3 linked regions of the Homo sapiens genome follow. The protein of the gene in region 2 purifies or fractionates together with the protein of the main gene of each other region. This does not show direct contact. Each region holds a gene or a part of one and is shown on either strand. Other genes may lie near its edges. The genes, in order: PTCD1, FASTKD2 and NGRN.

Region 1 (7,753 bases), on a different chromosome or scaffold from region 2:
AAGAAGACAGGCTTCCGGTACGCCCTCCAGGTATGTCCCTCCCACCCCACCTTCCTGCCCTGCTTCCCCGGTGCCAGAGGTGCAAAATGGTGATCCTGTGAGCACCCACGATGGCCCTGTGCTGAGTATTTTTATATCTGTGCTCTTTTCTGAAAACCCAGCAGCCACTGTAGCCTCCATTCTACAGATGGCAGGGAGAGGAGGCCCTTGGAGATGGAATGAGGGTGGCCCCCGCCCCTCCCACCCTGCTTTGCAGTCGGCTTAGCCCCTCTAAACTCACCTTCCTTGAAAGCCTGCCACACACTCACCTGGGGACTTGTTCAACCCTCCCACACCCCCATTAGCACTTCTGCAGGTGCAACCCAGGAGTCATTCATTCATTCATTCATTCATTTATTTTGAGATGGAGTCTCACTCTTGCCCAGGCTGGAGTGAGCGATCTTGGCTCACTGCAACCTCCGCCTCCCAGGTTCACGCGATACTCCTGCCTCAGCCTCCCGAGTAGTTGAGATTACAGGCGCCCGCCACCACGCCCAGCTAATTTTGTATTTTTAGTAGAGACGGGGTTTCACCATGTTGACCAGGCTGGTCTTGAACTCCTGGCCTCATGTGATCTGCCCGCCTGGGCCTCCCAAAGTGCTGGGATTACAGGTGTGAACCACAGCTCCCCGCTGGAGAGCTTTTTTTTTCTTTTTCTTTTTAATGTTTTTAATTTTTTTTTTTTTTTTTTGAGATGGAGTCTTGCTCTGTCGCCCAGGCTGGAGTACAGTGGCATGATCTCGGCTCACTGCAAGCTCCACCTCCTGGGTTCACACCATTCTCCCGTCTCAGCCTCCTGAGTAGCTGGGACTATAGGCGCCCACCACCATGCCCAGCTAATTTTGTTTTTGTATTTTTAGTAGAGACAGAGTTTCACCATGTTAGCCTGGATGGTCTCGCTCTCCTACCTCGTGATCCGGCGCCTTGCTCTCCCAAAATGCTAGTATTACAGGCGTGAGCCACCGCGCCCGGCCAATTTTTTTTTTTTTTTTATTGATCATTCTTGGGTGTTTCTTGCAGAGGGAGATTTGGCAGGGTCATAGGACAATAGTGGAGGGAAGGTCAGCAGATAAACAAGTGAACAAAGGTCTCTGGTTTTCCTAGGCAGACGACCCTGCGGCCTTCTGCAGTGTTTGTGCCCCTGGGTACTTGAGATTAGGGAGTGGTGATGACTCTTAAGGAGCATGCTGCCTTCAAGCATCTGTTTAACAAAGCACATCTTGCACCACCCTTAATCCATTTAACCCTGAGTGGACACAGCACATGTTTCAGAGAGCACAGGGTTGGGGGTAAGGTCACAGATCAACAGGATCCCAAGGCAGAAGAATTTTTCTTAGTACAGAACAAAATGAAAAGTCTCCCATGTCTACTTCTTTCTACACAGACACGGCAACCATCCGATTTCTCAATCTTTTCCCCACCTTTCCCCCCTTTCTATTCCACAAAACCGCCACTGTCATCATGGCCCGTTCTCAATGAGCCGCTGGGCACACCTCCCAGACGGGGTGGTGGCCGGGCAGAGGGGCTCCTCACTTCCCAGCAGGGGCGGCCGGGCAGAGGCGCCGCTCACCTCCCGGACGGGGCGGCTGGCTGGGCGGGGGGCTGACCCCCCCCACCTCCCTCCCGGACGGGGCGGCTGGCCTGGCAGAGGGGCTCCTCACTTCCCAGTAGGGGCGGCCGGGCAGAGGCGCCCCTCACCTCCCGGACGGGGCGGCTGGCCGGGCGGGGGGCTGACCCCCCACCTCCCTCCCGGACGGGGCGGCTGGCCGGGCGGGGGGCTGACCCCCCCACCTCCCTCCTGGACGGGGTGCTAGCCGGGCAGAGGGGCTCCTCACTTCCCAGTAGGGGCAGCCGGGCAGAGGTGCCCCTCACCTCCCGGACGGGGCGGCTGGCCGGGCAGGGGGCTGACCACCCCCACCTCCCTCCCGGACGGGGCGGCTGGCCGGGTGGGGGGCTGACCCCCACCTCCCTCCCGGACGGGGCGGCTGGCCTGGCGGGGGCTGACCCCCACCTCCCTCCCGGACGGGGTGGCTGCCGGGCGGAGACGCTCCTCACTTCCCAGACAGGGTGACTCCCGGGCGGAGGGGCTCCTCACTTCTCAGACGGGGCGGCTGCCAGGCGGAGGGGCTCCTCACTTCTCAGATGGGGCGGTTGCCAGGCAGAGGGTCTCCTCATTTCTCAGACGGGGCGGCCGGGCAGAGACGCTCCTCACCTCCCAGACGGGGTCGCGGCCGGGCAGAGGCGCTCCTCACATCCCAGACGGGGCGGCGGGGCAGAGGCGCTCCCCACATCTCAGACGATGGGCGGCCGGGCAGAGATGCTCCTCACTTCCTAGATGGGATGGCGGCCGGGAAGAGGCGCTCCTCACTTCCTAGATGGGATGGCGGCTGGGCAGAGACGCTCCTCACTTTCCAGACTGGGCAGCCAGGCAGAGGGGCTCCTCACATCCCAGACGATGGGCGGCCAGGCAGAGACGCTCCTCACTTCCCAGACGGGGTGGCGGCCGTCTTGGCACTTTGGGAGGCCAAGGCAGGCGGCTGGGAGGTGGAGGTTGTAGCGAGCCGAGATCACGCCACTGCACTCCAGCCTGGGCACCATTGAGCACTGAGTGAACGAGACTCCGTCTGCAATCCCGGCACCTCGGGAGGCCGAGGTTGGTGGATCACTCGCGGTTAGGAGCTGGAGACCAGCCTGGCCAACACAGCGAAACCCCGTCTCCACCAAAATAATACAAAAACCAGTCAGGCGTGGTGGCGCGCGCCTGCAATCGCAGGTACTCGGCAGGCTGAGGCAGGAGAATCAGGCAGGGAGGTTGCAGTGAGCCGAGATGGCAGCAGTTACAGTCCAGCTTCAGCTGGGCATCAGAGGGAGACTGTGGAAAGAGGGAGAGGGAGACCGTGGGGAGAGGGAGAGGGAGACCGTGGGGAGAGGGAGAGGGAGAGGGAGAGGGAGACCATGGGGAGAGGGAGGGGGAGAGGGAGAGGGAGAGGGAGAGGCCCGGCCAATTTTTTAAATGTTTTACAGTTGTTTTGAGACACTCTCGCTCTGTCACCCAGGCTGGAGTGCTGTGGCATGATCACGGCTCACTGCAACCTCGATCTCTGGGTTCAAGTGATTCTCCCACTTCAGCCTCCTGAGTAGCTGGGACTGTGGGCATGCAATACCACACCCAATAATTTTTGTATTTTTAGTAGAGATGGGGTTTCACCATGTTGGTCGGGCTGGTCTCGAACTCCTGATCTCAAGGAGTCTGCCTGCCTTAGCTTCCTAAAGTGTTGGGATTACAGGCGTGAGCCACCGCGCCTGGCGTATTTTTTTGAGGCAGGGTCTTGCTATGTTGCCCGGTCTTGTCTCGAACTCCTGATCTCAAGGGATCCTCCCATCTAAAACTCCCAAGGTGCTGGGATTCCAGGCGTGAGCCCTGCGCCCAGCTGCTGAATGGGAGCACCCAGCTGACGTTTGTCTCTTCCGTGGCAGGTGTGGCGGCTGATGCTGAGTCTAGGGCTACAGCCGAGCCGGGACAGCTACAACCTGCTGTTGGTGGCAGCTCGGGACTGTGGCCTAGGGGACCCCCAGGTGGCCTCAGAGCTGCTTCTGAAGCCCAGGGAGGAGGCGACTGTGCTTCAGCCCCCAGTGAGCAGGCAGCGGCCAAGGAGGACAGCCCAGGCCAAGGCAGGCAACCTCATGTCAGCCATGCTGCATGTGGAGGCCCTGGAGAGGCAGCTGTTTCTGGAACCTTCTCAGGCACTTGGGCCTCCAGAGCCTCCGGAAGCCAGAGTGCCCGGCAAGGCCCAACCAGAGGTGGATACTAAGGCAGAGCCCAGCCACACAGCAGCCCTCACCGCAGTGGCCCTGAAGCCACCTCCCGTGGAGCTGGAAGTCAACCTCCTGACCCCCGGGGCCGTTCCCCCTACAGTGGTCTCCTTTGGAACGGTGACCACCCCAGCTGACCGGCTGGCCTTGATAGGGGGCCTGGAGGGCTTCCTGAGCAAGATGGCAGAGCACAGGCAGCAGCCCGACATCAGGACCCTCACGCTACTGGCCGAGGTGGTGGAGTCCGGGAGTCCTGCAGAGTCCTTGCTGCTGGCCCTCCTGGATGAGCACCAGGTAGAGGCCGACCTGACATTCTTTAACACGCTGGTGAGAAAGAAGAGCAAGCTGGGAGACCTGGAGGGGGCCAAGGCGCTGTTGCCGGTCCTGGCAAAGAGGGGCCTCGTCCCCAACCTGCAGACATTCTGCAACCTGGCCATCGGGTGCCACAGGCCGAAGGACGGTCTACAGCTTCTCACAGACATGAAGGTGAGTGGACTCGGGCCTGGGCAGGACACCCATGGTGCTCAGGAGCACTCTGCAGCTCAGGAGGAAAGTTTGAGGGGTCTGCAGACCCCCCACCTGGAGAGGATGAACTGTGCATGGGGCAAAGAGAGTGGGGTCAATGACCTTCTGGTCTTTGGTCCCATTTTGGGGGAAGCAGACCCCAGTGAGTGCTTCAGGGCTGGGCGTAGAGACACACGGATGTTCCCATCCGGAAGAAGGTGGCCGTGGGTTGACACAGGGCTGGGCACAGGCCTCGGCCCCAACACTCTAGAGGTATGGCAGGGATTCTCAGAATTCCTGAGGGGCCGTGGGCAGTTTTCAAAGCCCCCGAGGTCTGTGCCTCCCACCTAACCCCCATTGGAAGTGCTGCGTGGATTTCATCCGACCACAGCAGAGGCTGCGTCCTGGGTTGTCGGTGTCCCCAGGTCCATCATCCTCTGGCTGTTTTCCTGGACCCTACCGGGCTCACCCAGCCAAGGCTTGCACTTTTCTAGGCCAACCACCACCTGGTGACCGTGCGTCACAGGAAGCCCACCCCAGGGAGCAAGGAGGTGGTGTCTCCCACATCATTTTCTGCCTGAGTCAGTCGGTGTCTGAGAGCAGCACGAGCGTCCTTTTCCGCAGCTTCTTTAGGGCTGAGCAGAGGGGCTGGGCTTGGCTTTCCTGCTGGAGAGGGATATTCAGCACATTGTTGCTGCCAAGTTTGCCTTGCTGGCCCTGGCCGCTGGTCCCGGGAGCCAGCTTGATTGACAGAGGGTGGGAGCTGCTGGGTCCCAATGGCTGCCATCATCTTGATTCTACGATGTCCCTGTGTTCTAGAAGTCCCAGGTGACCCCCAACACTCACATCTACAGTGCCCTCATCAACGCGGCCATCAGGAAGCTGAACTACACCTATCTCATCAGCATCTTGAAGGACATGAAGCAGAACAGGGTCCCGGTGAACGAAGTGGTCATCCGCCAGCTGGAGTTTGCAGCCCAGTACCCTCCCACCTTTGACCGGGTGTGTGCCCCAAGCTCAAAAGCTCATCAGCTCCTTCACCATTGCTACCCCCTCCCCCCACCACCCAACCCCGGTTCTGGCCCTTGGGATTGTGTTGCCATGCTTGAAACTGTCCAGCAGCTTCCCTTAGGAGCAGTACCCAAGTCTGTAGACCACAGCCTGCGAGTCCCTGTCTGCGTGGCTCATCTCATGTCTCAGCCTTGCGTTTGCTTTCTCTGTCTGTCCCAGTGGCCTTCTGTCAGTTCGCAGAGGCCACCAACCTCTTGCCTGCTTCGGGATTGGTGTTCCCGCTGCCTCAGGTGGCACCCACTTTTCCTGGAGGTCTCTGCTTAAGTGGCCCTCAGACATGCCCAGCTGGCTGCCGCTCTGACCTGGGATGAAAGTCTCCCCTCCCCCTTCCCACTCTGTTCCTTTATGCCGTGTCCTACAGTCTTGGATCATGTGCTCATGGGCAGCCCTGGCCTTCCCTGTATCAGGCTTCTGGAGGCAGAGGCTGTCTGCTGTGCTCATCTGGGTCCCCAGCACCTGCACGTTGCTGGGTACTCCAAACAGGTTGTCGCTTGCTCAGGGACTGGGCAGGCAGTGAAGTGGTGTCATTGTCTGGGGTGAATACCTGAGATTTGTTGTGAGCCAAGATCGCGCCACTGCACTCCAGCCTGGGCGATAGATGGAGACTTGGTCTCAAAAAAAAAAAAAAGAGGTTAAGAGCTGAAGTTTAATAGGCGAAAGAAAGAAGAGCTCTCGCCCGGTGTGGTGGTGAAAAAAAAAAAAAGAGAAGAGCTCTCTCCTTGCAGAGAGAGGTGCCAGAGAAGTGGGTTGCCACTTCCATAGTGTAATGCAGAGGTTTTGTAGATGAGCTTGGGGAGGTGGTGTCTGATTTACAGAGGACGCAAAAGATTAGTTGGACCAGGTGTGCCATTTACATAGCATGTATAAAAGCTGGTGCCCCACCCTAACCTTTTATTATGCAGACAGGTGGCCATCGCCATGTTGCCTGGTTCTTTACTGTACACATGGCAACAAAGAAGGGAAGATGGGGCCCCCACGTTGAACATATCTGGCTCCCAGGTAGCCCTTTTCTGTTGGCACAGCCGCCAGCATTTACCCCTGCAAGCTTCCAGTTTGCTTATCTATGTCTGCAGCTCGATTTTTCAGGCTGCTCTTTGTTAGAAAAGAAATTATTTGGGGGCTGCTTTTTATTAAAAGGGAAATTTCGCCAAGGACTCTGTTGCCCTTATTATCTGCCTAAATAATTTCTTTCAACCTCCTGTATCAGCAGGAGCAGGGCAGAGTCATGGAATCTGCTTTGTCACGGCCACAGCCTCTCCCTGCTGTTCTGAGGCTATCAGGCTCTGGGGTTTGGCTTTTGGGTCCATCGAATCACACTCTGTGCTGAGCATCTCCGGAGCATCGAGAGCCACTATGGCTTGAAGCACAGCCCGGATGGGGCGGAAACAAGTAAATGGGCAGGGACACACACAGCTAGAGGGTGCGGGGTCAGGAACGCCGTGCAGGTGTCACGCCTGAATGCCATTTTGAGGGCTTCCTACAAATAGGTGGGACAGCAATGGAAATTGTGTCTGGCTGAAGGCATAGCTGGGCATTTTTGAACTGTGTCTGTGCTTTGAACTGTTGGTTGCAAGCCTTTTCTCATTGATTCCAGGGTTTTTTATATATTCTGGGTACTGGTTTTTTGTTGATCACATGTTGTGCATATCTTCCTAGTGGATTGTCTCTTCCCTCTGGCGTAGGGCTCACTAGGGGTTCAACTCGACAGTCACAAGACTATCATAGACCTAAAGCATATCATATTTAAGTCACAGACAGATGTCCCTGACTTAAAGATGATTCTACACAGGATTTTTCAACTTTGCAATGGTTTTATCAGGATGTAACTCTGTAAGGATCGACTTTGTGCGGGGTTAGTTTCTACTGAATGTATATCACTTTTGCATAATTATAAAGTCAGGACCCTCTGCTGTGTTGCCAGCAATAGATGCATTTTCCTTTTGTTTTTTATGAGATGGAGTCTCACTCTGTCACCCAGGCTGGAGTGCAGTGATGCGATCTGGCCTCACTGCAACCTCTGCCGCCCAGGTTCAAGTGATTTTCCTGCCTCAGCCTCCCGAGTTGCTGGGATTACAGGAGCCTGCCACCACACCAGGCTAATTTTTGTGGTTTTTTTTTTTTTTTTAGTAGAGACGGGGTTTCACCATCTTGGCCAGGCTGGTCTTGAACTCCCGACCTCGTGATCCACCCACCCCAGCCTCCCAAAGTGCTGGGATTATAGTTGTGAGCCCCCATGCCGTGCCGCATTTTCTTTTTTCTTTTTTTTTTTTTTTTTTAAAGAGACGGGAATCACTCTGTTGCCCAGGCTGGAGTGCAGTGGCACGAT
Region 2 (7,753 bases):
AAATGGCCAACAGGTATGTGAAAACATGGTCAACATCACTAATCATCAGGGAAATGCAAATCAAAACCACAATGAGATATCACTTTACATCTGTTAGGACGGCCATTATCAAAAAAACAAAACAAAACAAAATCTAACAAGTGTTGGAGAAGATGTGGAGAAATTGGAACCCTTGCACAATGTTGATAGGACTACAAAATGGTGCATGGAAAACAGTATGAAGCTTCCTTGAAAAATGTAAAAGTAGAACTACTACCTAGTAAAGAAAAGCCCAGGACCAAACTGCTTCACTGCTGAATTCTACCAAACATTTAAGGAAGAACTAATACTAATCCTACTCAAACTATTCCAAAAAGCAGAGAAGGAGGGAATACTTCCAAACTCATTCTACAAGTCCAGTATTACCCTGATACCAAAATCAGACAAAGACACATCAAAAAAAACAAAAAACAAACAAAAAAACTACAGCACAGTATCTCTGATGAAGATTGATGCAAAAATCCTCAAAAAAAATACTAGCAAACCAAATTCAACAATACATTAGAAAGATTATTCATTATGACCAAGCAGGATTTATCCCTGGGATGCCAGGATGGTTCAACATATGCAAATCAATCAATATGATACATCATATCAACAGAATAAAGGATAAAAACCATATGATCATTTCAACTGATGCTAAAAAAAAAAAAGGCATTTGGTAAAAGTAGAACCCTTAGTAAAAGCAGAATCCCTGTATGATCCAGGGATCTCACTTGTGGATATATTTCAATTCATAAGAATTGAAATGAGAATCTCAAAGAGACATCTGCACTCCCATGTTAAGTGCAGCATTGTTTGCAATAGCCAAGATAGGGAAACAACCTAAACATCCATCAGCAGATGAATGGATAAAGAAAATGTGATATATACATATAATGGAATATTATTCAGCCTTAGAAGGAAATCTCATCACATGCTACAATGTGGATCAACTTGAAGGGCATTATGCTAACTGAAATAAGCTAGTCATAGAAGGACAAATACCGCATGACTCCACTTATATAAAGTATCTAAAAAGGTCAGTCATAGAAACAGAGATTACAATGTTGATTGTCAGGGGTGAGGAAAGGGGGAAATAGGGGAGTTGCTATTCAACAGGTATAAAGTTTCAGTTATGCAAGATGATTAAGTCCTAGAGATCCACTGTACAATATTGTTAACTATATCATTAATAATAAAGTCAGCAATATTGTACTGCACACTTTAAAATTTACTAAATGTTCTTACCATAATAAAAAAAGTCAAATTTTTTAAAAGACAGATTTCTCCATTTTTTAATACAGTTAAAATAAACTATGAACTTAGGAGCTACGAGGATAAGCTGGGAGGGTTTGAAATCAAACTCCTATAATGAATTAACTAATACATTATAAAGAACAAAGAAACAAACAAGACAAAGGGCAGCAAATATAAAACAAAATTTTGTTTAACCTTATAAATGAGTAAGGAACACTATGTTTTATTTATTGGCATGGATGATGACTATGGGTGTGTTCACTTGTAATAATTCATTAAGCTTATGATTTATAACCTTTTTTGTAAGTTATATGGCAATAAAAAAGGTAAAAAAAAACAAGTACATACTCTTTGTTCTGGCATTTGTAGACATGATTGAGAGAAGAGTAAGTATGAAGAATAGATAGAATGTTTTTCATGTTTAGGGATTCAGGATCCTCTACTATTCTCTTCATAAACAGGTCCATTAAACCAACAGGTCGAAAGCCAAGGTTTTCAAATAAAATGAGGATAAAAAGAACCTTAAAAAGAGAAAATTGAGGGAAAACTCTATAATAATTACAGTATGCTAATAGTAATTTTTTAGATCTCAAAAAATCTAAGCAGCAATTCAACTGTCCTGATCAACAGAATATATCCTGAAACAGAATATTTCCATGAAAAGGAACAATCATCTTTCTCTCACAAAATCTGTTCTATTAATTCTTGAATTGGGTATCAAGTTAATAAGCAATCTTTTTTAAGCTGAGAACCAGGGCATACAATGATTTCTACGTTTCCATCTGATTTAAAAATAAATCTCTTCCTACATGCTTTTCATACAACATATCTGAAAATTACTTTTAAATATGCCTTTTCTGAAGGTTTTCAAAATGACCAACTCAATCTTGAACTTCTCGCATTCCCAAACTTAAATACTTCCTAGATTCTAACATGTAAGACATAACCCCAAAATTTCTATATTTAATATTCATACCTATAAGTGAAAATGGAACTGAAACATTATGATTAAAATAAACTTTCAAGTTCACCTCCAATTTCCTTCTCAATCTTTCTTACTTAGGATTATTACTTCTCTTTCTATAACCAATTTCCACAGTAAACTCAATATTTACCTTACTCTCCAAAATAAACTGAACCTAGAGATCTAACAGTTATCACCTATTTCATTGCAAAAAGAAGTTTTTACCAGGTGCTTCATTAAATGTTTATATTCTTAACACAGCTCCTGATTTTAAAGGCTTTTACTCTGGATAAAACAATGGACATGACCATTAAGTAGTGACATTTTATTCTTCAAAAACCCCAAGCCTGTCACATCACCCATCTTTATTATTTGAAATCTAACAAGAACAAAGTATAAACACGGAAATCATGCTAAATATCTAACAAAAGTACCATACAACCCTTTTTTTTTTTTTTTTTTTTTGAGACAGAGTTTTGATCTTTATTGCCCAGGCTGGAGTACAGTGGCACAATCTCAGCTTACTGCAACCTCCACCTCCCAGGTTCAAGTGGTCCTCCTGCCTCAGCCCCCCTAGTAGCTGGGATTACAGGGACACGTCACCATGCCCGGCTACTTTTTGTATTTTTAGTAGAGATGGGGTTTCACCATGTTGGCCAGGCTGGTCTTGAACTCCTGACCTCAGGTGATCCACCCACCTTGGCCTCCCAAAGTGCTGGGATTACAGGCGTGAGCCACCGCGCCCAGCCCATACAACCCTTTTAAAACGAAAAAGAAGAGCAAATTTTTGTTTCAAATAGAAAGATGACCAAAGGATAGAATAGTATACAGATTGTCCTTGACTTACGGTGGGGTATATCCCAACAAACTCACCATAAATTGAAAATATTTTAAGTCAAAATGCATTTAATACATCCAACTTACTGAACATCATAGCTTAGCCTAGCCTACTTTAAACACGCTTAGAACACTTACATTCACCTATAGTTGGGCAAAATGAGTTAACAAAAAGCCTATATTATAATAAAAGTGTTGAATATCTCAAGTAATTTATTGAATACAATATGCATTGTTTACCCTCATGATTGCACAGCTGATTGGGAGCTGCGACTTGCTGCCACTGCTCAGCATGAAAAGAGAGCATCATACAACATATCACTAACCCAGCAAAACAACAAAATTCAAAATTCAAAGTATGGTTTCTACTGAATGCGTATTGCTTTTGCAACATCAAACAGTCAAAAAATATTAAGTCAAGCCATCCTAAGTTGGGGACTATTCATATTAGCAAGTAGCCCCCAGACAGGAATAATAAGGAGCTAATTTTTCAAAAGTCAATTCAGCATTGGAATATTTTGGTATCTTAACTACTATAAAGGTGAAAGAGAAATACTTAAAATGCTACATGAATTAGTGTTTTAAAAGTTTGTGAGGCTTATTCTAAATTGTTAATGTACTCACTTTTCTGAACTTCCAGATGTCGAAAGTTGCAGCCACATAATCTGCAAGTCCCTTGAAGAGATCCAAATTATGGTACTGGAGGTCTTTGCAGGACTGCAATATGTTGATCATTATTCTTAAAGGACACCCATGGATATTATCTTGAAGAATGAGTTAAATAAACAAACAAAAATTACCTGATTGTTTTGAATACAACATGCTTTATTCTTTTTTCATATAAAAGCAAAGTTTTTAAAACAAAACAAAAATAGTCTAAAACAGAAGCTCAGGTATTGCAAATGATGAAAGAAAAATTCCTCTTACCTAGGACCACCTTACTGCATTCATCCAGGAGTATAAGAGATCGGTGATTCATGGCAGCTAGTACTTCAAACATGTGTTGGCTATTCAAAACAGAAAATCTGTCTAATTCCCTCAAGGCTTTCATCTAAAGAAAAAACAAATTTTAATTTAATTTACTATCTGTGACAAAATAAATTAAACTTTTATTTTTATTGAGACAGGGTCTTGTGCTGTCACCCAGGTTGGAGCCTCAACCTCCCAGGCTCAAGTGATCCTCCTGCCTCAGCCGCCCATGTAGCTGGGATTACAGGCATGCACCACCTACAGGCATGTACCACCACGCCTGGCTAATTCTTTGATTTTTTTTTTTTTTTTTTTTTTTTTTGCAGAGACAGGGTCTTGCTCAGTCACCCAGGCTGGTCTCAAACTCCTGGGATCAAGAGATCTCCCTGCCCTTGACATCCCAAAGTGCTGGGATTACAGGTGTGAGCCACCATGTCTGGCCTAAACATTTATTTTTAAACAAAAAGGATGAAGTTTGGGTAATATGACCCAGACAGATAAATAAATATACATGTATATATATACAGATAAATAAATATAAGGGTACTTCTATTCATTCACTTTAGTGAAGCTAAACCTAAAAGCCCAGCAATGTCCTCCTAGAAAATTGACTTCAGGCAGTGATAGCAGGTTATAAGAAAGATTTTTTCAAATCTCATCCACTAGAGAAAATTCATGTGTTTACCTCCAGTTTCCTCTTAAGAGCAATCGGTGCATCTTTTCCAATACACTTCATCACAACTTGTAATGTGAAGACATCTTCTATTTTCCAAACTTGCTGATCAACTAGTATTCTGTTATCAAACACAATAAATATTAAAATCATAGAATCTTCAAAGCAGAAGAAAAATCTTAAAATTTCATTTGGTCCAGCCCCTTCTTACAGGCAAGGATTATGAAGCCCAGAGAAATGATCTACCTGCTTGAGAGAGTGTAAGTAGTTAAAGATCGAGACCCAATCTATTAATAGTGCTATTTTCTCTCACATTATTGTGCTGTCTTTACTAAAGAACAAATTATGTCAGGAGATTATAGTAACATATCCTATGCATAGTCAATGTCAAAGGGAGTTAAGTTTTACTCTCACTAATCTATGACATTAGATCATTTATATCAATTTTATAAATCCCTTTTCAAGCTGGGTCAACGTCAACCCTCACATAGTCCCCGAATAACTATTCTGAATTAAATATACATATCAATTCTCTCCTACCCCGCATCAGTACTATTTTTTTTTTTTTTTTTTGAGACAGAGTCTCGCTCTGTTGCCCAGGCTGGAGTGCAGTGGCGCGATCTCAGCTCACTGCAAGCTCTGCCTCCTGGGTTCACGCCATTCTCCTGCCTCAGCCTCCCAAGCAGCTGGGACTACAGGCACCCACCACCACACCCGGCTAATTTTTGTATTTTTAGTAGAGACGGGCTTTCACCATGGTCTCGATCTCCCGACCTCGTGATCCGCCTGCCTCGGCCTCCCAAAGTGCTGGGATTACAGGCATGAGTCACTGCGCCTGGCCAGTACTATGTTTTAAAATAAATTAATTTAGATTTCAATGTTACTCACATCTTTGTTATTATGGACCCTAAGAGAAGTATTTCCAGCCTATGTCATCCAGAGTCAGGATTTTAAGCTTAATAAGGTATGAAAGACTGTAACTACCAACAAAGCCTCCCCAACCCCTCCTCCCCTCAAGAAAGGAGTTTAGTTTTCATCTCAATTTTTTTATTCCAGATATATGAGGAACAAAGAAAACCACATGAAGAAAGCATAAGAGAGTTCTCACCTGAATCCCGTTCGTAGAACATGAACATTCTTGCATGGTTCCATTGCCTCTAAAACAGTTGACAAAACTGAAAGGCATATCTCATCACACTCATTGATACGTTCCTATTGAAATATAATTACAAAAACACTACAGGTGATGAGCCCATAGTAAACTATCTTACCCAAGCAAAACCACTGAACTGATGTACTGAATAAAACGATTGAGTATCAAACCAACAATTCCTACAGTCAGTCCACAATAAACAGCATCTTTGGGAAATAAAAAGTCATACTTACTGAATTTTCCAGCTGACTGATACACATCCTTTTATGCATCAACACTTTTTTACCTTCACCATTATCACTGAAAACACATTTGATATTTATTATATTCCACTGCTTCTGAAACAACTTTTATTAAACATTATTTTTACCTCTTCTTGGAATTCAAGGTCATTACAAAGGCAAAAACAGTTAAAGTGCAGGAATATAAGAACTACTGAAGTACAGAAGGTAACTAGCCCATCTCTAAAGATCCTTAAATGGTTGTGCCTTTACAATTTCCCTAGATCCTTTCCTGGGTATCAAGCTGAAACTTTACTTGTGAGTCTTCTGATTCACATCTCCTGCCACATTCTACCACTGCTATCTGGGTCTCAAGGGAAGCCTACACCCCACAGATTCTTCTTTCAGGTCCCTTTACTTAGGGTACTAAGTTTGATTCCAGAAATAGTGGGCATAATCTGGAAAGTGAATAGTAACAACACAGCTTAACTAGCAGTACTCTACAGTTTAATCACTAGTCTATAAACCTCACAAAAAATCACATCTGAGGAAACTTAGCCTGAAGAGAGAGAAGCTCTTTTGCTAAAATTACATAACCAATGAATCACAAAGTCTTAAGTCAGAACCAGGTAATAATAAGAAATGGTTATGGTTAGAAGAAAAAAAAGGTTTCTTTCCTATGAAAGGGTTTCCTTAACAATTTTACAGCATTCCATCCATATCTACTATGAAAGAAAAGACCACTTGTCTATGTGTTTGAAGGGCAAATTCATTGATGGCACACTGTCCTTTCACCTCTAAAATGTCTTTACATTATTCCAACAGGTCAGTGAGACACCATCATCCATACAGATGTTTTGACTACAAAAATCTACTACTCATACCTCACCAACACAGATGTCATCCCGATGCAAATATCTGTCCAAAATCTAGTAAGAGCATCACTGACCAGGTAAGGTGATTTATTAGTCACTTTTAAATAACTACATAGGAACTAATACACAGCCTACAAATAAACAGGGATATTCTGTGGTTTAAACAAATACACACACATACACTAAATAAAAATTAGTTATTCCTTAAGGACATATGGAAATCACAGTAATGTAAAAAGTTAAAAACTTTCCCATAGCTATGAACCCAATTATTGAATTCTATAGCAAGACAGGATATATGCCAGATTATCCCCAAGGAATTCCTGTCTTTTAAAAAATTATTATTATTATTTTCAGACAGGGTCTGGCTCTGTCACCCAGGCTGGAGTGCAGTGGCACGATCATGGCTCACGGCAGCTTCGACCTCCCAGGCTCAAGTGATATTCCCACCTCAGCCTCCCAAGTAGCTGGGACCACAGGCAAGTACATCACACCCAGCTAATTTTTGTATTTTTTGTAGAGATGGAGTCTCCCTTTGTTGCCCAGGCTGGTCGCAAACTCCTGGGCTCAAGAGATCCTCCTGCCTTGGCCTCCCAAAGTGCTGGGATTACAGGTGTGAGCCACCACACCTGGCTAAGAAATTACTTCATTATCACTGAGTTTATACGTCAGAAGTGTACACTCTTAAAACATAAATGATTAACAAGCTAATCCTTCCTTCCTTACATTTGGCACCATTTCAGTGACATTAAACAGGACACTGACATTCTTGCTTTAGACTAA
Region 3 (8,623 bases), on a different chromosome or scaffold from region 2:
CATGCCACTGCACTCCAGCCTGGCAGCAGAATGAGACTCCGTCTCAAAAAAAAAAAAAAAAAAAAAAGAGAGAATCAGTGTCAATCAATAAATAAATAATGGGGGGGGGGGGGTGGGAGAAAGCAGTTTCAGCTGGGTGCAGTAGCTCACACCTGTAATCCTAACACTTTGGGAGGCCAAGGCAGGCAGATCGCTTGAGCTCAGAAACTGGAGACCAGGTTGGGCAACATGGCAAAATCCTGTCTTTATTTAAAATATATATATATATTTTAATTTAAAAGGCAGTTTTTACAAGGGCAAATGCTGCTGAATTATTTAGGACGCTAAGGACTACAAAGTGTCTTTTTGAGCCTAGCACTGAGGAAGTCACTGATGGATTTAAGGAGAGCAGTTTTATTGCAGTGATACAAACAAACAAAGGGTAGGCACCCTGGGAACCAGCTGGGAACAAAAGAATGAGAGAGAGCTTTAGGTTGAGGACAGAGGTCCTTGAGTAATCTTATGCAGGGAGAAATATGACCTAAAGCATACAGAGAATTGGTCCCAGACAAGTGAAGGGCTCCCATTTCCTCTGAAATGGGAGTAGAGTATAAGTTTGAGAGTAGTGGGCAAAGAGGAAGACCAGGAAGCTGAAAGTTTTTACTTAATGGACTGTTTTTTTTTTTTCCTCTTAAAAGGACATTTATTGACCACAATAAAGGGAGATAAGTAGGAAGGTGGAAGGTTTGAAAAAGCTATTGTTGAAGACAGGAGATAGAGGCCGGCATGGTGGCTCATGCCTGTAATCCCAGCACTTTGGGAGGCCGAGGTGGGTGGATCACCTGAGGTCAGGGGTTTGAGACCAGCCTGGCCAACATGGTGAAACTCTGTCTCTACTAAAAATACAAAAATTAGCCAGGTGTGGTGGTGCACGCCTGTAATCCCAGCTACTTGGGAGGCTGAGGTCCAAGAATCTCTTGAACCTGGAGGCAGAGGCTGCAGTGAGCTGAGATTTCGCCACTGCACTCTGGCCTGGGCGACAGAGTGAGACTGCCTCAAACAAAAAACAAACAAACAAACGAAAAAAAGAGGAGCTAGACCTGACTGAGGACTCAGAAGGTGCTACAGGCTCACAAAATCTTGAGCAGCTCTACAGAATCCCCTTTATTTTAAATTTCAATTCCAGAGTCATTCTGATGGAAATGAAAAATAGTACATAATCTATGTAGGGCTACTTAGCAATATTTATCAAATTGCAAATGCATTTGTCTTTTGACCTGGCAACCTTACTTCTGGGAATGTATATAACAAATATTCCTGGCAGGTATGCAGAATGATACACATACGTAGTTATTCACTGGGGCACTATTAGTGAGCAACAGAAATGGAAACAACCCAACTAAATGCCCACAATAAAAGACAGGTTAAATAATGCATTCTGGCCAGGCATGGTGGCTTACGCCTCTAATCCCAGCACTTTGGGAGGCCGAGATGGGAAGATCAGTTGAGGCCAGAAGTTTGAGACCAGCCTGGTCATCATAGTGAGACCCCCATCTCTGTCAAATAAATAAATAGGAGAAAAAATTGTTTAAATAAAAATTAAAAACCACTGTCATATACTGCCTCATATACTGCCTCAAAAAAATATAATAACACCATCTATAAAAAAAGAATTGAGGGCCAGGCGCAGTGGCTCACTCAGGGCACAGAGCCTAGTTTTTGGTAGAGAAAAACTATTAAAAATAGTACAGCTGCACACAGTGGCTCATGCCTGTAATCCCAACACTTTAGGAGGCTGAGGTGGGATGATCGCTTGAGCCCTGGGAATTGGAGACTAGCATGGGCAACATGATGAGGCTATCTCTACAAAAAATAAACAAAATTAACCAAGCATGGTGGCATGCACCTGTAGTCCCAGCTACTTGGGAGGACGAAGTGGGAGGATGGCTTGGGCCCAGGAGGTAGAGGCTGCAGTGACCGGTGATCACATCATTGTACTCCAGCCTTGGCGACAGAGTGAGACCCCCAACTACCAAAAAAAAAAAAAAAAAGTACCCACAGGAGAGTGGGTGGGACAAATAATTCTCAATGTGTATACCATGTTATACTGTTAGGTTGAGCCATATGTAATACTTTACCTACTCAAAACAAAAAAACTTAAAAACTCTTTTAAGCTTTCCTAAATTATAGATCCTGTCTTCAGAAAAATGCACCTACCTATGGAAGCACCAGCATCCCTGTACCTTAGGTTGGGAACGTCACAACCTACATTCAAGGGTTAAATGTTGTGATGTCTGCGATTTACTATTTAAAAATTTCAGTAAAAATGAACCAACCACGTCATAACGTTAAAAACTATTAAAACCAGGCGGGGCGCAGTGGCTCATGCCTGTAATCCCAGCACTCTGAGAGGCCGAGGCGGGAGAATCACTTGAGGTCTGGAGTTCGAGGCGATAGCGAAACCCCGTCTCTTTAAAAAACAAAACAAAACACTATTAAATCTAGATAATGACAGGGTTAGGGAAGTTCGTTATATTACTCTACTTTTCTGATAATAAATTTCAACGACAAAAAGTAAACGAAAATATAAAAGCAGTATCAAAAAAGCCAAACCCGTTTCTGGGCTCCAGCATCCTTCACTTCTCATCACAGCGGATACAAACAAGGTATCCTGAGTCTCACCGTATCTGCTCCATGGCTTCCCACGTCAGGGTCCTGGGCGGGGCACCAGGCGCCTCCATTTGCCTCCGAATTTTCTGGAATCGGATTGCTTGTTTCTGTCGTTTCAGGGTGCTGGGGGAAGAGAACCAATGGCAGAAGCCATGCGTGGAAGCAGAATGGATGTTTGAAGAGCCTCAGGCTAAATCATGGAGCGCCCAGCCCTCTTCTCTTTGATCGCAAGGGCAACCGGGCCATGTTGCCGGCTTAGAGCTGCTCCGTACACCCAGAAAGCTAACACCTAGAACAATAACTGCCTGTAAGCATGCCGAACTCTCTAAACTGATGATGAAATACGTCACTAATGAAGGGACCAGTGGTCCCAGGGGAGCTGAACACCTGACGCTGCGCCCCTAACAACGGGTAAGAAGAAACAAGGGCCGCTGCGCAAGCAGCGGCAGGACACCCGGCGCCAAGGGGGCGCGGCCTGGAGCGCCGGGGCACGAGGCCCTGCTTCAAGCTGAGGGCCCGGGGAGAAGCCGGTACCTCTCCACCTCCTGCAGCTCCCGTTCCTCCGGCTCCCAGTCGGAATCGGGGTCCGGCTCCCGGCCAATAGGGCCTGGGCCCGCCACCCCCCGGGTCGCGAACCCACAGCGAGTGACGGCGGCGCAAACGCGCCCGCCCAGCAAGAGACTCAGGGTAACCGCCATGTCGACGCAAACCAGCCTTCAGCAGTCGGCTACGAAACAGCAGCGGAAGTAGCCGGGTAAGACCGGAAGTGGAAGGGGCGGGCCGGAGGCTGGGTAGTAGCAAGTTATTTCCCGCTTCACTTGGTGGGGGTAAGATCTGGGCTCACGCTGCTCAGTGGCCCACCCTTTCTGCCTGTAACTGTGGAGAGGGCTTCCCTGAAACGTGAGGGCCGAAATGAGGTACAGGACGCTCCTGGAAAACTGCATAAACTTTAATTAAAGTACGGATTCCGTTTCCAAGAGCCGTCCCTCCGCCCCAGCGGCTGCCCAGGCCTGCCTGTCTCCGCCACCTCGGTGGGCAGGGCTTCCGCTCGGCAGTCTTCTGACGGCGACAGCCCAGTGCCTTGGGCACTCGGCTTCTCTGGGAAAGGGGCTCATTGTCTCCTGGATGGCCTCCAGCCCCGGGCCGCACCTAGGGTTCAGACCCATCACCTAGCGATAAACCCAGGCTAAGGCTTGATGAGCAGAAATGAGTACATGGCTGGCCTTGGCGCCTCTTCATCTTCTAGTCTTTACCGATCCCCAATTAATCTTAGGGTATTGAGGAATTCTTGGTGTCTTTGTATTTTGCCTTATACAAATGGGGTTCCTGGGCAGGGCTTTTCAAAGTGGAACTTGGTGGCAGTCATTCATTTAGCAAAGATTTAATGCCCTTTGGAAACCTGGGGAGGTTATCCAGGAGAGGTAGAGTGCTTCCCTCCTGCTTTTACCTGAACTGATTGATGTTGAGGAGTGCTCTGGAACGCTGCAGCATGGGTGCAGACGCAGGGCAGAGGGGAACCTTGGCTGCTCTGTGTTCAGAGTTTACCATGGAGGGCAAGGTGCATTCAGTCCATGAGTCAGATGCCACTCTTTCCGGTTGCAGAAAATAGCCCTGCTTTGGGGTTAAAGTGGGTGGCACTGATCCTGCCAGGACTCGGTTTATGGCTTCTAGCCTTCTGCTGGCTTGTCCTTCTGCAGTGGAAACATGGATGTCCCTGAGTTGGTATTCACAGAAGAGATTTGTTCACCTCTTTCCCAACTGTGGCCCAATTACCAACACAGAGGAAGGGCATCTCATGCTTCCCTCCACTGTCTTTCCCACACTGTATTGTAATTGGTATGGTATGTCTTTTTGTCCATGTTCCTATTACCTCTTGAGTGCTGGGACTGTATTTCTGCCATTTCTATCACCAGGGTCTAGTGTACAGAAAGGATTAAATAGGCCTGGTGCGGTGGCTTACACCTGTAATCCTAGCACTTTGGGAGACTGATTCAGGTGGATCAGGAGTTCAAGACCAGCCTGGGCTACGTGGCAAAAACAAAATATACAAAAGTTAGCCGAGCATGGTGGTGTGTGCCTATAGTCCCAGCTACTCAGGAGGCTGAGTCAGGAGAATTACTTGAGCCCGTGAGTGGAGTTTGCAGTGAAGTGAGATCAAGCCATTGTACTTCAGCCTTGGCGACAGAGCGTGACCTTGTCTCAAAAAAAAAGGAGTAAATAAATGGGTACCCTAACTTCCCCATTCTTACACTGGTGGAAGTGCCATATTATATTTTAGGGGCATCCAAGCTCTATGCTTGCTAGTGGGATTTACATATGTCAAAATGACCAAAGCTAGTTTTGCATACTTACGGCTAGTGAGCCTGATTCTGGCACTGGAAAAATAGCACCTCCCAGCCTTCTTCATTGACAATGAACAGGAGTTGATGGCTGCCGGCTCTCCTGTCCAGTTGAAGTTCTTGGGCTGCAGATGGTACCGGGGAACATGTGGGATTGCAGCATTCATGCTTGGCAGTGCCCCTAAGATCCTGGGGATTGATTCATGGGGCAGAACTGGATGCAGGAAATGAGGAGCGCCCTGCTCTGTGGCAGCCCCTCTTAGGAGCACCAGTAGGACCAGACTCATAGATTTCAGTTCTTGACTGCCCAGCCTGTCCTAGCAAAATCTAGGCTAGAGGAGAAGAGCAGCCCCTTACCACATTTTTATGTAAGTTTGGATGGAGCGTTGGAAGAAGGAGGTAACTGAAAAAAATCTCTTCTAGGCCGCGGCCACTATTTAACCAGATACTCCTTTGGGGTTCAACAAAAACAGAAGACCCAACAGGTTTGCTACCAGCCCAGGGAATAGTGAAAGCGGCAGCTCTTTTGTTGGCCCAAATCTGTTTACTTATCTCCCATTAGAGCTGGGGCACTGGCAGTGCTAGGGAGAAAATTATACAGAAGCCACTGAGGGTGGTGGGCTTGTTATTTGTCAGTCATGAGTGTGGGGTTATTTTGGGACAGGAATATAGAGAGCAAGTTTCCTGTAAATGAGAAGGTTTGGAGCTGCAACTTGCTGGATGTCATATCTAAAACAAAGGAGCTTGGGAACAGACGCAAAAGGAATCAACAGACCCTCTCCCAAGGTCCAGCTAGCGCACTCTGCTTTCCCAGGCTCCACTGACAGATACCATCACACAAGCCTCCTTTGTTGAGACCAACACCATGTCCTGGAATGACAGCCCTTGTTCCCTTTTCCTCTGGGAGACTTCACAGGGACCCTCACCCGACTCTCATGAAGTTTTTTCTGGCCCTGGGGGCCAGGGTGCTGCAGACGGGTGAGCTGCTCTACAATACCCAGGCTTCGGATGAGAGTCTCCCTTTGTAGCAGGGCCTTCATCCGCTCCAGCTCCTCCTCTTCCACAATTTCTTGAGGCCTCATGGTGTCCAGCTGTCCCGGCAGCAGCTACAAGGTACATGAGAGATAAATGCAGGATCTCCAAGGATAAGTCCCAAACCATCACCCAGGATGGCTACAGGCCTCCTGCCCACTCTACCCTCATCCCTTCCCTGACCCAGGAAGGTTCCTTTTGCTGTCCATTCTCTCACTTCATCTTCCAAAGGATCGGATTCAATTTACTGATTAGGAACTCCTCTCTCTCTTGTGCATGGGGAGGAGAAGACAGCAGAGATTCATTCCCCTATCTAGTTGTCCCAACCCATTTTCCTGTGGAAAGATAAGAGCTACAAAACCCCTGGCACCTCTTTCTCCCAGTTGCGGTTCCTGTAAGCCAAGTGGGTGGAAAGGCTCTGGAGCCCTGCCCTGGGTCGGCTTTTCTCCCCAGCTGATTCACCCTGGTTCTGGTCCCTGGCCTTTTGCCTCTTAGTGCCCGAGGTCTCCTGCTGTTCCTGCTTAAGGCGGATCTCCTCTAGTTGCTGCCTGACAAGACACAGCAGCTTCAGACAGTAGAGAAATGGTGTTGGGGAGAAGAGGGGTGAGGAAAAATGGGGATGAGGAAAGAGCAGGAAATTACAATCTGTTCTTAGGACTGATGCGAGAGCAATGAGAGGGGAAGATAGGAAACCTACTAAACTGAAAAGAGTCACTAAGAGTCTGATAGGATTTATAGCTCCATTCCTCTTTGCTGGTGTCTGGCTTCCTCTTTCCCTGCTGGGAAGCAATGCAGCTTCAGGACTTGTCCCCACCTAGGTGTGCAGAGGAGAATGTCGGTCAAAGTACCTGGCACACTCCTCTCTGGCCTTGGAAGCAGCAGTCTCTTGGAAGAGGGAGCCATTGTGCTTGAAGAAGCGGGCATACTTCTCTGTGTCAGGCCCAGGGTAGATCCGCCGGTATTTTCCCAGGTGAGAATCCTCATATCGTTCCTGGTCCAGCATTGCCACATGGGATGACTCAGTTTTTTCTTTCCTGTGGAAAGCAAGCTCAGTGAGTCAAGAGTAGGGCTGTGGGAATGTTCAGTAGGGAAAGGAAGACTGACTAAGGTTTGGAGACCCTCCTGCTGGCTTCTTGACCTCCTGGGCCCCTGCCCAAGTAGGGAAAGCTGCCAAGCCCATCTTTGGCTAGCCCCACATGTGGGTAGCCATGAAAATAGGCTTGACTTCCAGAAATCTGATTTGCTTTTCTTTTCTTTTTTGAGACAGGGTCTTGCACTGTTGCCCATGCTGGAGTGCACTGGCACAATCTCTGCTCACTGTAACCTCTGCCTCCCAGGTTTAAGCAGTTCTCCTGCCTCAGCCTCCCAAGTAGCTGGGATTACAGGCATGCACCACCATGCCTGGCCAATTTTTGTATTTTTAGTAGAGACAGGGTTTCACCACGTTGGCAAGGCCGGACCTCAAGTGATCCACCCACCTCGGCCTCCCAAAGTGCTGGGATTATAGGTGTGAGCCACCGTACTCGGCCTGATTTTCATCTTAAGTGGAGAGGGGTCTACTCGTAAGCTAGCAGTCCATTATCATAGTTTTTTAGGTTTCTGATTGTAAAAGTAACATATGTTTTGATATTAGCTTTCCATTTGAAAAAAAAAAAAAAAGTGGCCGGGCATGGTGGCTCACGCCTGTAATGCAAGCACTTTGGGAGGCCAAGGCGGGTGGATCACTTGAGGTTGGGAATTCGAGACCAGCCTGGCCAACATAGCGAAACCCTGTTTCTACTAAAAATACAAAAATTATCTGGGCTTGGTGGCGTGTGCCTGTAGTCCCAGCTACTTGGGAGGCTGAGGCAGGAAAATTTTTTGAACCCAGGAGGTGGAAGTTGCAGTGAGCCAAGATCGTGGCACTGCACTCCAGCCTAGATGACAGAGTGAGACTAGTCTCAAAAAAAAAAAAAAGAAAACAAGAAAAAAAGGTAATATACGTTCATTACAGAAAATTTAGAAGAGCAGAAAGAAGATAAAGCCTTCCATAATCTTACTATGCAATTAGCATGTTGATTATGAGCATGAATCTGAGGCAGGACCTCTTGACTTTGAATCCTGGCTCTGCCACTCACTAGCTTGTGCGTGCATGCGTGTGTCCTTCCTTCCTTCCTTCCTTTCTTTCTCTCTTTTTTTTTTTTTTTTTTGAGACAGAGTCCTGCTCTATCGCCCAGGCTGGAGTGCAGTGGCACAATCTCAGCTCACTGCAACCTCCGCCTCCTGGGTTCAAGCGATTCTCCTGCCTCAGCCTCCTGAGTAGCTGGGATTACAGGCATGCACCACCACGCCCAGCTAATTTTTGTATTTTTAGTAGAGATGGGGTTTCACCATGTTGGCCAGGATGGTCTTGATCTCTTGACCTCCTGATCCGCCCACCTCAGCCTCCCAAAGGGCTGAGATTACAGGCCTGAGTCACTGCACCTGGCCGCTTGCTTGCTTTCTTCAAATGAAAATGAAATAATGCAACAATATTTTTATTTTATTTTTTAATTTAATTTTTTGAAACAAGGTCTCACTCTATCGTCCAGGCTGGAGTGCAGTGATGCAGTCTCAGTTCGCTA

The links.
Region 1: the proteins of FASTKD2 (region 2) and PTCD1 purify together in Homo sapiens (affinity purification with mass spectrometry; 2 studies listed by BioGRID and IntAct, with this or other methods). This does not show direct contact.
Region 3: the proteins of FASTKD2 (region 2) and NGRN purify together in Homo sapiens (affinity purification with mass spectrometry; 3 studies listed by BioGRID and IntAct, with this or other methods). This does not show direct contact.

What each region holds. Positions count from the first base shown.
Region 1 is NC_000007.14:99,421,380-99,429,132, reverse strand, and holds part of PTCD1 (pentatricopeptide repeat-containing protein 1, mitochondrial), read left to right. Parts: coding exon 1-30; intron 31-3,516; coding exon 3,517-4,338; intron 4,339-5,175; coding exon 5,176-5,358; intron 5,359-7,753. Other genes in the region: ATP5MF-PTCD1 (ATP5J2-PTCD1 fusion protein), read left to right, coding at 1-30, 3,517-4,338, 5,176-5,358. UniProt on the Homo sapiens protein: Mitochondrial protein implicated in negative regulation of leucine tRNA levels, as well as negative regulation of mitochondria-encoded proteins and COX activity. Also affects the 3'-processing of mitochondrial tRNAs.
Region 2 is NC_000002.12:206,768,271-206,776,023, reverse strand, and holds part of FASTKD2 (FAST kinase domain-containing protein 2, mitochondrial), read right to left. Parts: intron 5,934-7,753; coding exon 5,830-5,933; intron 4,843-5,829; coding exon 4,734-4,842; intron 4,131-4,733; coding exon 4,007-4,130; intron 3,844-4,006; coding exon 3,704-3,843; intron 1,800-3,703; coding exon 1,627-1,799; intron 1-1,626. UniProt on the Homo sapiens protein: Plays an important role in assembly of the mitochondrial large ribosomal subunit.
Region 3 is NC_000015.10:90,260,437-90,269,059, reverse strand, and holds the start of NGRN (neugrin precursor), read right to left. Parts: upstream 3,389-8,623; 5' UTR 3,348-3,388; coding exon 3,184-3,347; exon of another isoform or gene 2,773-3,183; coding exon 2,662-2,772; intron 1-2,661. Other genes in the region: tubulin polyglutamylase TTLL13, read right to left, coding at 4,093-4,340, 5,002-5,113, 5,915-6,094, 6,391-6,568, 6,869-7,054. UniProt on the Homo sapiens protein: Plays an essential role in mitochondrial ribosome biogenesis.